2 separate regions of the Homo sapiens genome follow, and region 1 is linked to region 2. The links come from fine-mapping of genetic effects on plasma protein levels. A gene starts in region 2. The other region holds a variant in brackets. All regions are shown on one strand. Distances are from middle to middle.

Evidence for each region. PIP is the chance, under the fine-mapping model, that this variant and not a neighbour inherited with it causes the effect. The UK Biobank Pharma Proteomics Project read protein levels with antibody pairs (Olink). The fine-mapping took linkage between variants from a reference panel, not from the people measured, so its PIPs are less certain.
Region 1: its variant is fine-mapped to the plasma level of the CA5A protein (UK Biobank, PIP above 0.99).

Annotation. Positions count from the first base shown.
Region 1 is chr16:87,890,477-87,895,847 of GRCh38, forward strand. It overlaps CA5A (carbonic anhydrase 5A), which reads right to left. Exons shown (of 7, transcript NM_001739.2): 6 at 1,323-1,478. Among named protein-coding and RNA genes, the nearest start is that of SLC7A5, 24 kb to the left of the region's middle. The variant G/A (reference allele first, on the strand shown) is at 3,209.
Region 2 is chr16:87,933,245-87,938,615 of GRCh38, forward strand. It overlaps CA5A (carbonic anhydrase 5A), which reads right to left and starts at 3,285. Exons shown (of 7, transcript NM_001739.2): 1 at 3,065-3,285. The coding sequence starts at 3,206.

The DNA of each region.
Region 1 (5,371 bases), 43 kb before region 2:
TGCGACTGCTGAGAAACGTCTGCCGGGCGGGGGCGGGGCATAGGCAGCACGTCTGTGGCTCTGAACTGCCTTGGACAGACAGAATTGCTACAGATTCTTAAGATTTCCAGAAAAAAATGATAGTATAACTTTTATTTATTTTTTATTTTATTTTTTTGAGGCAGAGTGTCACTCTGTCACCCAGGTTGGAGTGCAGTGGTGCCATCTCAGCTCACTGCAACCTCCGCCTTCCAGGTTCAAGTGATTCTCCTACCTCAGCCTCCCAAGTAGCTGGGATTACAGGCAAACGCCACCATGCCTGGCTAATTTTTGTATTTTTATTTATTTATTTATTTGAGATGGAGTTTTGCTCTTGTTGTCCAGGCTGGAGTGCAGTGGCGTGATCTCAGCTCACTGCAGCCTCTGCCTCCCGGCTTCAAGTTATTCTCTTGCCCCAGCCTCCCAAGTAGCTGATATTACAGGCATGCACCACCACGCCTGGCTAATTTTGTAGATTTAGTAGAGACGGGGTTTCACCATGTTGGTCAGGCTGGTCTCGAACTCCTGGCCTCAAGTGATCTGGCTGCCTTGGCCTCTTTAAGTCCTAAAATTATGGGCATGAGCCATGACGCCCAGCCCAAGAGTATAACTTTAAAAAGTGTATACAAATATTATTAATTAATTTTCGAAAAAAAAAAAAGCAATGAAACTATTTAGATAAGAAAAAGGAGGCCGGGCTCGGTGGCTTATGCCTGGAATCCCAGCGCTTTGGGAGGCCAAGGTGGGCAGATCACCTGAGGTCAAGAGTTCAAGACCAGCCTGGCCAACATGGTGAAACTCCGTCTCTACTAAAAATACAAAAATTAGCCAGGCGTGGTGATGGGTGCCTGTAATCCCAGCTATTTGGGAGGCTGAGGCAGGAGAATCGCTTGAACCCAGGAGGTGGAGGTTGTAGTGAGCCGAGATCGCACCACTGCACTCCAGCCTGGGCGATAGAACGAGACTCTGTCTCAAAAAAAAAAAAGGAAAGAAAAGAAAAAGGAAGAAAACAAAAACCATGCAGACCCATGACCCTGGGACAACTCCCATGGATGCCTCGTGTGTCTGTGTGTGATAGATTAGGGCGTTGCTCAGGACATGCTTGCTGTGATCACTGGAACCGCTGTCCAATCTCAACAAGCTCCTACTTCAGTTGGAATTTTCTTCTTGTGTAAGAATGCCCCAAATGCATGAAAGAATATATATAACTCCACAACGCTCTCATGCAGCATCTTAGTGACGCTGCCAAGCAAGAGGGACGCCTTCCATGAAGCGCCATCGTGCCAGTTACGGGCACGGCTCACCTGGCTTGGGGCCACTTCAACGGGCTCCTTCTGGATGATCCAGGTGACCGACTCGGTCAGCGGCGGGGTGGTGAGCGAGCCCGCGTAGGTCCAGTAATCCCAGCAGGTGGGCAGCAGAGTGGAGGGGTCGAAGGGGCGCATGGCCGCCCGCGCGTCCTGAGAGACCGAGAAGCACAGGACGTGTCAGTCCTCAGGGGAGACTAGGAGCTTCCATCTTGTCTCAGCACGTGAGGCCTTCATGGTGCTTGGAAGGAAGTGCTTTCCCCCAGATAAGGCCATGAGGCCACTGCTGTCACACTTGCAAGCAGTGATGAGAAAATGTGACCCTTCTATACAGAGCAAGGATTCCTGCCAACTTACATTGGTGGGAATTACGTTACATTACACCAGCTTACGTTGGTGCTCACATTTTTCCTTTTGAAGTCATTTCTTGGGGCGCAGTAGCTCACCCCTGTAATCTCAGCACTTTGGGAGGCCGAGGCGGGTGCATCACTTGAGGTCAGGAGTTCGAGACCAGCCTGGTCAACGTGGTGAAACCCTGTCTCTACTAAAAATACAAAAATTATCCAGATGTGGTGGTGGGCGCCTGTAGTCCCAGCTACTCAGGAGGCTGAGGCAGGAGAATCGCTTGAGCCCAGGAGGCAGAGGTTGCAGTGAGCCGAGATCATGCCACTGCACTCCAGCCTGGGCAACAGAGTGAGACTCTGTCTCAAATAATAATAATAATAATAATAATAATAATAATAATAATAATAATAAATTAATTAATAATAAAAATAAAAATAAAGCCATTTCTTTTAGCATACCTTGGCTGCAAAAAATATTACTTTTTATTGTGATAAAATATACATAACATAAAATTTACCATCTTAACCTTTTTTTTTTTTTTTTCGAGATGGAGTTTTGCTCTTGTTGCCCAGGCTGGAGTGCAATGGTGTGATCTTGGCTCACCGCAACCTCTGCCTCCCAGGTTCAAGCGATTCTCCTGCCTCAGCCTCCAGCGCCTGCCACCACGCCCAGCTAATTTTTGTATTTTTAGTAGAGACAGGGTCTCACCATGTTAGCCAGGCTGGTCTTGAACTCCTGACCTCGGATGATCCACCCGCCTTGGCCTCCCAAAGTGCTGGGGTGAGCCACTGTGCCCGGCCTATGGGCTCCTTTTTAAGGAGGGAGTCATGGTGGCCAAGAAGGATGTCCACATGCCTAAGCACCCGGAGATGGCAGACAAGAATGTGCCCAACCTTCATGTCACGAAGGCCATGCAGTCTCTCAAGCCCCGAGGCTGCCTGAAGGAACAGTTTGCCTAGAGACATTTCTTTCTTTCTTCCTTTCTTTCTTTCTTTCTTTCTTTTTTTTTTCAGACAGAGTCTCCAGGCTGGAGTGCAGTGGTGCGATCTCAGCTCACTGCAGCCTCTGCTTCCTGGGTTCCAGCGATCCTCCTGCCTCAGCCTCCCTAGTAGCTGGGACTACATCTTCACGCCATCGCGACCAGCTAATTTTTTATATTTTTAGTAGAGACGGGGTTTCACCATATTAGTCAGGATGGTCTCGATCTCCTGACCTCGTGATCTGCCCACCTCGGCCTCCCAAAGTGTTGGGATTACAGGCGTGAGCCACCACGCCCGGCTTGCCTGGAGACATTTCTACTGCTACCTTACCAATGAGGGCATCCAGTATCTCCGTGATTACCTTCATCTGTCCCTGGAAACTGTGCCTGCCACCCTATGCTGCAGCCGTCCAGGGACTGGCAGGCCTCGGCCTAAAGGTCTGGAGGGTGGGCGACCTGCAAGACTCACAAGAGGGGAAGCTGACAGACATACCTACAGACGGAGTGCTGTGCCCCTGGTGCCGACAAGATAGCCGAGGCTCGGGCTGGGTCAGCAACC[G/A]AATTCCAGTTTAAAGGCAGATTTGGTCGTGGACATGGCCAGCTACCTCAGTAAAATCAGAGAGGATTATTTTGCATTGAATACACTCACAGCCAAAAAACAAAAAGAGTCAGGGTCTTACTTTGTCACCCAGGCAGGAGTGCAATGATGCCATCATAGCTCACTGCAGGCTCTAATTCCTGGGCTCAAGCGATCCCCCCGCCTCAGTTTCCCAAGTAGCTAGGACACCACACCAGGGTTTAAAATTAATTGTTTGTAGCCAGGGGGTCTTGCCATCTTGCCCAAGCTGTTCTCCAACTCCTGGGCTCAAGCGATCCTCCTGCCTTGGCTTCTCAAAATATTGGGATTACAGGCATAAGCCACTGTGCCCAGCCAGCTCTTTTGGATATATACCCAGAAGTGTGTGATTGCTGAATCATAGGGTAGTTCTATTTATAACTTTTTATTTTTTTTATTTTTTTTGAGGCAGAGTCTCACTCTGTCTTCCAGGCTGGAGTGCCGTGGCATGATCTCAGCTCACGGTGGTTGGGCCTGGCCGCAACACAGCCCTCATCAGCGTCCCATGCCAACCAAGCATAGCTCTGCACCTGCCCCTGGCCAGCACTGTGGGACAAGAGTCCAGTCCAAAGTGACAGAGTCCCTGTCTGCAAGGAAGATGGCCTCCCTGCTCAGCCACATCACATCACCTTGACTTTGCTGGGCCCTGGCCTTCCAAGGTGGAAGCTGGCAACCCAGATGCCTTGGGCTTGTCTCCTAACATCAAGCAGTGAGGGTCAGGGTCAAGAGAGGTGGCTGAGCTACCAGAAGGAAGCCCGGGAGTGTCCACACTGGCAGACACATGCATCAGTTCTATGCACGCATGTTCACGTTTATAATTATCCAGTTAATTAAAAAAAAAAAAACAGCATTATAGGCTGGGCACAGTGGCTCATGCCTGTAATCGCAGCATTTTGGGAGGCCAAGGCAGGCAGATCACCTGAAGTCAGGAGTTCAAGACCAGCCTGACCAACATGGCGAAACCCCATCTCTACTAAAAATACAAAAATTAGCCAGGCATGGTGGCAGGTGCCTGTCATCGCAGCTGCTCGGGAGACTGAGACACAGGAACTGCTTTGGCACAGGATGCAGAGGTTGCAGTGAGCCGAGATGGCACCATTGCACTCCAGCCTGGGCAACAGAGAGAGAGACTCTGTCTCAAACAACAGCAGCAGCAGCAAAACCCACAGCATTATTGTGATAGAATTCACATACCATGCAACTCTCCCATCTAAAGTGTACAGCCTGGTTGGGCGCAATGGATCATGTCTGTAATCCCAGCACTTTGGGAGGCCGATGTGGGAGGACTGCTTGAGGCCAGGAGTTTGAGACCAGCCTAAGCAACATAACGAGACCCTGACTCTACAAAAAATACAAAAACTAGCCAGGTGCAGTGGTGCACGCCTGTGGTCCCAGGTAGTTGGGAGGCTGAGGTGGGAGGATGGCTTGAGCCCCGGAGGTTGAGGCTGCAGTGAGCTGTGATCATACCACTGCACTCTAGCCTCGGTGACGGAGTGAGATCCTTTCTTAAAATAAGTAAATAGGCTGGGCACGGTGGCTCACGCCTGTAATCCCAGCACTTTGGGAGGCCGAGGCGGATGGATCACCTGAGGTCAGGAGTTCGAGACCAGCCTGACCAACATGGCGAAACCATGTCTCTACTAAAAATACAAAATTAGCCAGGCGTGGTGGCGCATGCCTGTAATCCCAGCTACTCGGGAGGCTGAGGCAGGAGAATCACTTAAACCCGGGAGGCAGAGGTTGCAGTGAGCTGAGCTCATGCCATTGCACTCCAGCCTGGGCAACAAGAGTGAAACTCCATCTCAAAAAGAAAACAAAAAACAAAAAACAAAAAAAGTAAATAAAAATTGAAGGGTACAGTTCTATGGTTTTGGGTATATTCACAGTTGTGCAGCCATCCCAAGTCAATTTTAGAACTTCCACCTCAAGGGGGAAGCTTGGTACTTTTTAGCTATGGTCCCCACCCCCGCCCTGCTGCTTCTGTCTCTGTGGGTTTCATAGGAACTGAGTCATGTAACATGTGGAACATTTGTGTCTTGTGTCTCTCACTCAGCACGGCGCTTTTGAGGCTCACCCACACCGCAGCATGAGTTAGAGCTGTGTCCT
Region 2 (5,371 bases):
TGACTGTGGTGTAAATACTTTCACCATGGCCAATTTTAAGTTACCAACGTAACGTTGCTGATCACACACTTAGGAACAGATGGGCACTGCCAGTGCACACCCTGAAACATGACTAGAAAACATTAAATGATCCCTAAAATTATTTTTTCTTAGACAGGGTCCTGCTGTGTAGCCCAGGCTGGAGTGCAGTGGCCTGATCAGGGCTCACTGCAGCCTGAAATTCCTGGGGTCAGTGATCCTCCTGCCTCAGCCTCCCAAGTAGCTGGGATGATAGGTGTGTGCCACCATGTCCAGTTAATTTTTTAATTTTTTTTTTTTTTTAGAGATGGGTTCTTGCTATGTTGCCCAGGCTGATCTTGAACTCCTGTGCTTGAGCTGTCCTCCCACATCAGCCTCCCAAAACAGTGCTGGGATTACAGGTGTGAGCCCCCATGCCTGGTTCTAAAATTATCACTGAGCGTTTTGTAACTCTTTGACTTTTCTCTCAAGGCCAAACCACCAGTGATTTTTCAATAATTTTTAGTAACAATATTCTTTTTCCAAGTGAAATAATCTTCAGAATGCCCATAAATAAAACACCGACATAGAAGGATGAATTCCTTATGATGTTCCAATCTTCTCTGCTTGGCAGAATATTCTGCTCTTTGTGGAACTCTGAAATGATTTGGCAGAGCCCTCTGTTCACTGGGAACAGGTTGAGGACCATGGTGTAAATGGATTTAGGTGCCGATACAGAATATGACTCTCTCTAGCACACGATGTAAGAGGACATGTTGCCACAGTAAGAAATGGAATGCTACCTGCTGCCCACTGACAGGGAAATGCTTAAATAGACACAGGGCACCCACCGCTGCCTGTGTTAGCAACAGCAGCAGCTGGCGTCTAGCAAGGGCTTCCTGGAGCCATGTGCTGTCCCCAGCCTTTGCAGGCCCCACCTCGGACCCTTCTCCCAACGACACTGTGCCGTAAGCACCATTATCAACCCCCTGTTACAGACGACAAAACCAAGGCTGGGGGAAGTTAAGAAAGTCACAGAGGGGACAGCTGGGCGTGGTGGCTCACGCCTGCAATCCCAGCACTTTGGGAGGCTGAGGCGGGCAGATCACCTGAGGCTGGGAGTTCAAGACCACCCTGAGCAACATGGAGAATCCCTGTATCTACTAAAAATACAAAATTAGCCGGATGTGGTGGCGCATGCCTGTAATTCCAGCTACTCGGGAGGCTGAGGCAGGAGAATTGCTTGAACCTGGGAGGTGGGGGTTGCGGTGAGCTGGAGATCGCACCACTGCGCTCCAGCCTGGGCAACAAGACAGAAATTAGTCTCAAAAAATAAAGGAAAGTCACAGAGGGGCAACAGCCATAGAGCAGTGGGGCCAAGATTCCAATCTAGGCAGGCTAGCGCTCTTGACGGTCGTACTAAGAATAAAAAAGGGGGGTGGGTGCAGTGGCTCACGCCTGTAATCCCAGCACTTTAGGAGGCCGAGGCAGGTAGACCACCTGAGGTCGGGAGTTTGAGACCAGCCTGGCCAACATGGCGAAATCCTATCTCTACTAAAAATACAGAAATTAGTTGGGCGTGGTGGCACACGCCTGTAGTCCCAGCTACTTGGGAGGCTGAGTCAAGAGGATCGCTTGAACCCAGGAGGCAGAGGCTGCAGTGAGCCGAGATCGCACCACTGCACTCCAGTCCACAGGTGTGGACCCCAACAGGAGGAATGAGTGTAGCTCACTCAGAGTCTGGGGTGGGCCAGGCTTTCTACACGCATCGTGTCATCCTTCCATGGCCCTGGAGAGAAAGTCTGGCCACCCCCATCTCGAGATAAGGACACAGAGGCTTGGGGGTGAAGACCTGCCGAGGCTCCACCTCAGCAAGCGTCAGTCGGACTGCATGCCTGGGGTCTGGCTCCTAAGCCCATGCTCTTTCAATGGCCCAAACATGGAATGCATGGAAGATTTCAGTTAGAAGAGAACTTGGCAGCTGCCAAAGCAGGCTCTCATTCTACGGAGGAAGCACCTGAGACCCAGAAAGAGGAAGGGCCTCGTTCAAGGTCACAAGGCACTGACCATGAAGCCAGGAGGGGCTGGCACGGGGCAGTTTCTTGGCAGAGCTGGCTGAGTGGTTTATTTGTTACAGGTTTGCTTGAAAGCGTTCTCTGCCGAAGAGTTTAGGAGCGATCGTGACTGGTTAGTGCAGCCCATTCCGCCGGGTCTGGATGGTGAGTCGTGCCAGTGTGTCCCGTGCGAACACGGACTACCCGCCTGCTCCCAGCATCTTGCCCTCCCCAGGACCCCTGAAACGGAGGCTAAATGATTCACCCAAGGTCACCAAATACAAGAGAAACGGAGTGTGGCCAGGCGCGGTGGCTCACGCCTGTAATCCTAGCACTTTGGGAGGCCAAGGTGGGTGGATCACCTGAGGTCAGGAGTTCGAGACCAGCCTGGCCAACATGGTGAAACCCCATCTCTACCAAAATACAAAAAATTAGCTGGGTGCAGTGGCGGGTGCCTGTAGTCCCAGTTACTTTGGAGGCTGAGGCAGGAGAATCACTTGAACCTGGAGGGCAGAGGTTGCAGTGAGCCGAGATCATGCCATTGCACTCTAGCCTGGGCAAAAGAGCAAAACTTCATCAAAAAAAGAAAAAAGAGGGCCGGGCGCCGTGGCTGATGCCTGCAATCCCAGCACTTTGGGAGGCTGAGACAGGCGGATCGCGAGGTTAGGAGTTCGAGACCAACCTGGCTAACACAGTGAAACCCTGTCTCTACTAAAAATACGAAAAATTAGCCAGGAGTGGTGGCATGCACCTATAGTCCCAGCTACTCAGGAAGCTGAGGCAGGAGAATCGCTTGAACCCGGGAAGTGGAGGTTGTGGTGAGCTGAGATCACGCCACTGTACTCCAGCCTGGGCCACAGAGCGAGACGCCATCTTAAAAAAAAAAAAAAAAAAACGGAGTGGAAATCTGAACCCATCTGGCTCGGGACGGTCTCTCCTCTCTCCTCTCGAAAGACCCCATCAGCTAAGACAAGGATCCAGTCGCATCTTAGGAAATTTGAGGCTCTACTTACAAGTGTTATTGCTGGTTTGCCATGCACAGGAACGCTGAGAACACCATCGCCCTGGCCTCATCGAACGACTCCAGAGAGGGGCCCACATCTGCTCAACCAAGAAGGAGAAAGCTGAGGTCTTCCAAGTGTTCCTCCCCAACATCTTGGGTCTGTTCCCACTGACTCCAGTCTGAAGAGGGTGATGTTCCCTGCTGTCTGTTCTCACTTTGATCAGGACCACTGTGGACTGGCGTGTACCCACCTCTTTTTGTAGAAACTCATCCCAACCCCTGAGCCTAATGGTTAAAGTTCAACCCATGCCTTTCCCAACAGGGTGGGTCCACAGGGATTAGTGGCCTCTGCTGGGGACAGGCCACTCAGGTCACTGGGCTTTGATCTGGCAAACAGGAGCACAAGTCTGCCAGGGAGCTAGAAAAACTGTACGGTGGGGCTGCGTGAGCACCAGGGGATTACGCGGGAGGCGGGGGCGAGTGGATGAGAGCAGAGTCCCTGTTTCTTTCATGGGGTTGACCGTGTGGTTTGGGGCTCCGGGACACTCAATACCAGGCACAAAGCCATGGTGTGCATGTGAGGAGGGACTGGCAGGCAGGCTCAGAAGTACAGGAATGGGACTGGCCAAAGCGCTGCTGGGTAGACAGGCCAGGGGAGCAGGGAGCTTCTGTCCACCCACCAGGGCTCCTGAAGTCATGGAGTCCTTGCTTGCCTTAAAATAGGTGCGATTTGATTCATTCATCCTCCCCGGAAGCAAGATGCCCTGTGGCTTCGGACACTTCCAGGTCATGCCTGCTGTCTTGGCATAAACATTAACAGGGCCACCTTTCTTTCTTTCCTTTTCTTTTTTTTTTTAGACAGAGTTTCACTTCTGTTGCCCAGGCTAGAGTGCAATGGCGTGATCTCGGCTCACTGCTACCTCTGCCTCCCAGGTTCAAGCAATTCTCCTGCCTCAGCCTCCTGAGTAGCTGGGATTACAGGCGCCCACCACCATGCCCAGCTAATTTTTTGTATTTTTAGTAGAGATGGGGTTTCACCACGTTGGCCAGGCTGGTGTTGAACTCCTGACCTCAGGTGATCTGCCTGCCTCGGCCTCCCAAAGTGCTGGGATTACAAGTGTGAGCCACTACGCCCAGCCTCTTTTCTTCGTTTCTTTTCTTTTCTTTCTTTCTTTTTTTGAGATGGAGTCTCGCTCTGTTGCCCAGGCTGGAGTGCAATGGCGTGATCCTGCCTCACTGCAACCTTTGCCTCCCAGGTTTAAGCAATTCTCCTGTCTCAGCCTCCTGAGTAGCTGGGATTATAGGCACACACCACCACAACGGCCAATTTTTTGTATTTTTAGTAGAGACGGGGTTTCACTGTGTTCCCCAAGCTGGTCTCGAACTCCTGAGCTCAGGCAATCCACCCACCTCGGCCTCCTAAAGTGCTAGGATTACAGGCATGAGCCACTGCGTCCAGCCTCTTTTCTTTTCTTTCTTTCTTTCTTTCTTTCTTTCTTTCTTTTTTTTTTTTTTTTTGAGGTGAGGTCTTGCTCTGTCACCCAAGGTGGAGTGCGGTGGTGCCATCATGGCTCACTGCAGTCTCAATCACCCAGGCTCAAGTGATCCTCCCTCCTCAGCCTCCCAAGTAGCTGGGACTATAGGTGCATGCCATTATGTCCAGCTAATTTTAAAAATTATTTGTAGAGGCAGGTTCTCGCCATGTTGCCCAGGCTGGTCTTGAACTCCTGGGCTCAAGCAATCCTCCCAGAGTGGCCTCCCAAAGTGCTCGGATTACAGGCATGAGCCACTGCCCCTGGCCTGGTACCTCCCTTCATGCCCAGGGTCCACATGGGTATGTTAGCTGGTCACTCTAGCCAGGCAGCTGGTGATATTTGCAGACGCCAACCCACAAAGAACCTTCCTTTGGGTCCTTTGAGCGGCACAGCAGTTTATTCACCCAGACACCTTTTACCTGTGAAATGGAACCCATGGGATTGGGATGCACCAGTTTGTGACTTCTTGTTGTTGTTTAAACTTACAATCTTTTAGGGGGCAGGGCTATCATAACTTTTCATAGAATCCTGGAATCTTAGATCTAGAAAACCCTACAGAACACAGGTGTTGAAATGCGAGTCCACTTGTAGGCTCCTGAAAGCCCAAGAATCCCACTGAAATCCCCCACACAATGGATAGGGTCTGCGGCTTTCGGCCACTGCTCTGGTGGGCCCAAGAGTTTGCTTGCATTTGTTTTGAGCAACAAAAACCAAGTCTGGATGATATGTTCTCTCCTTCCCACACAGTCATGGTGGAAATGCACCCACTCTTGGGAAGTCTG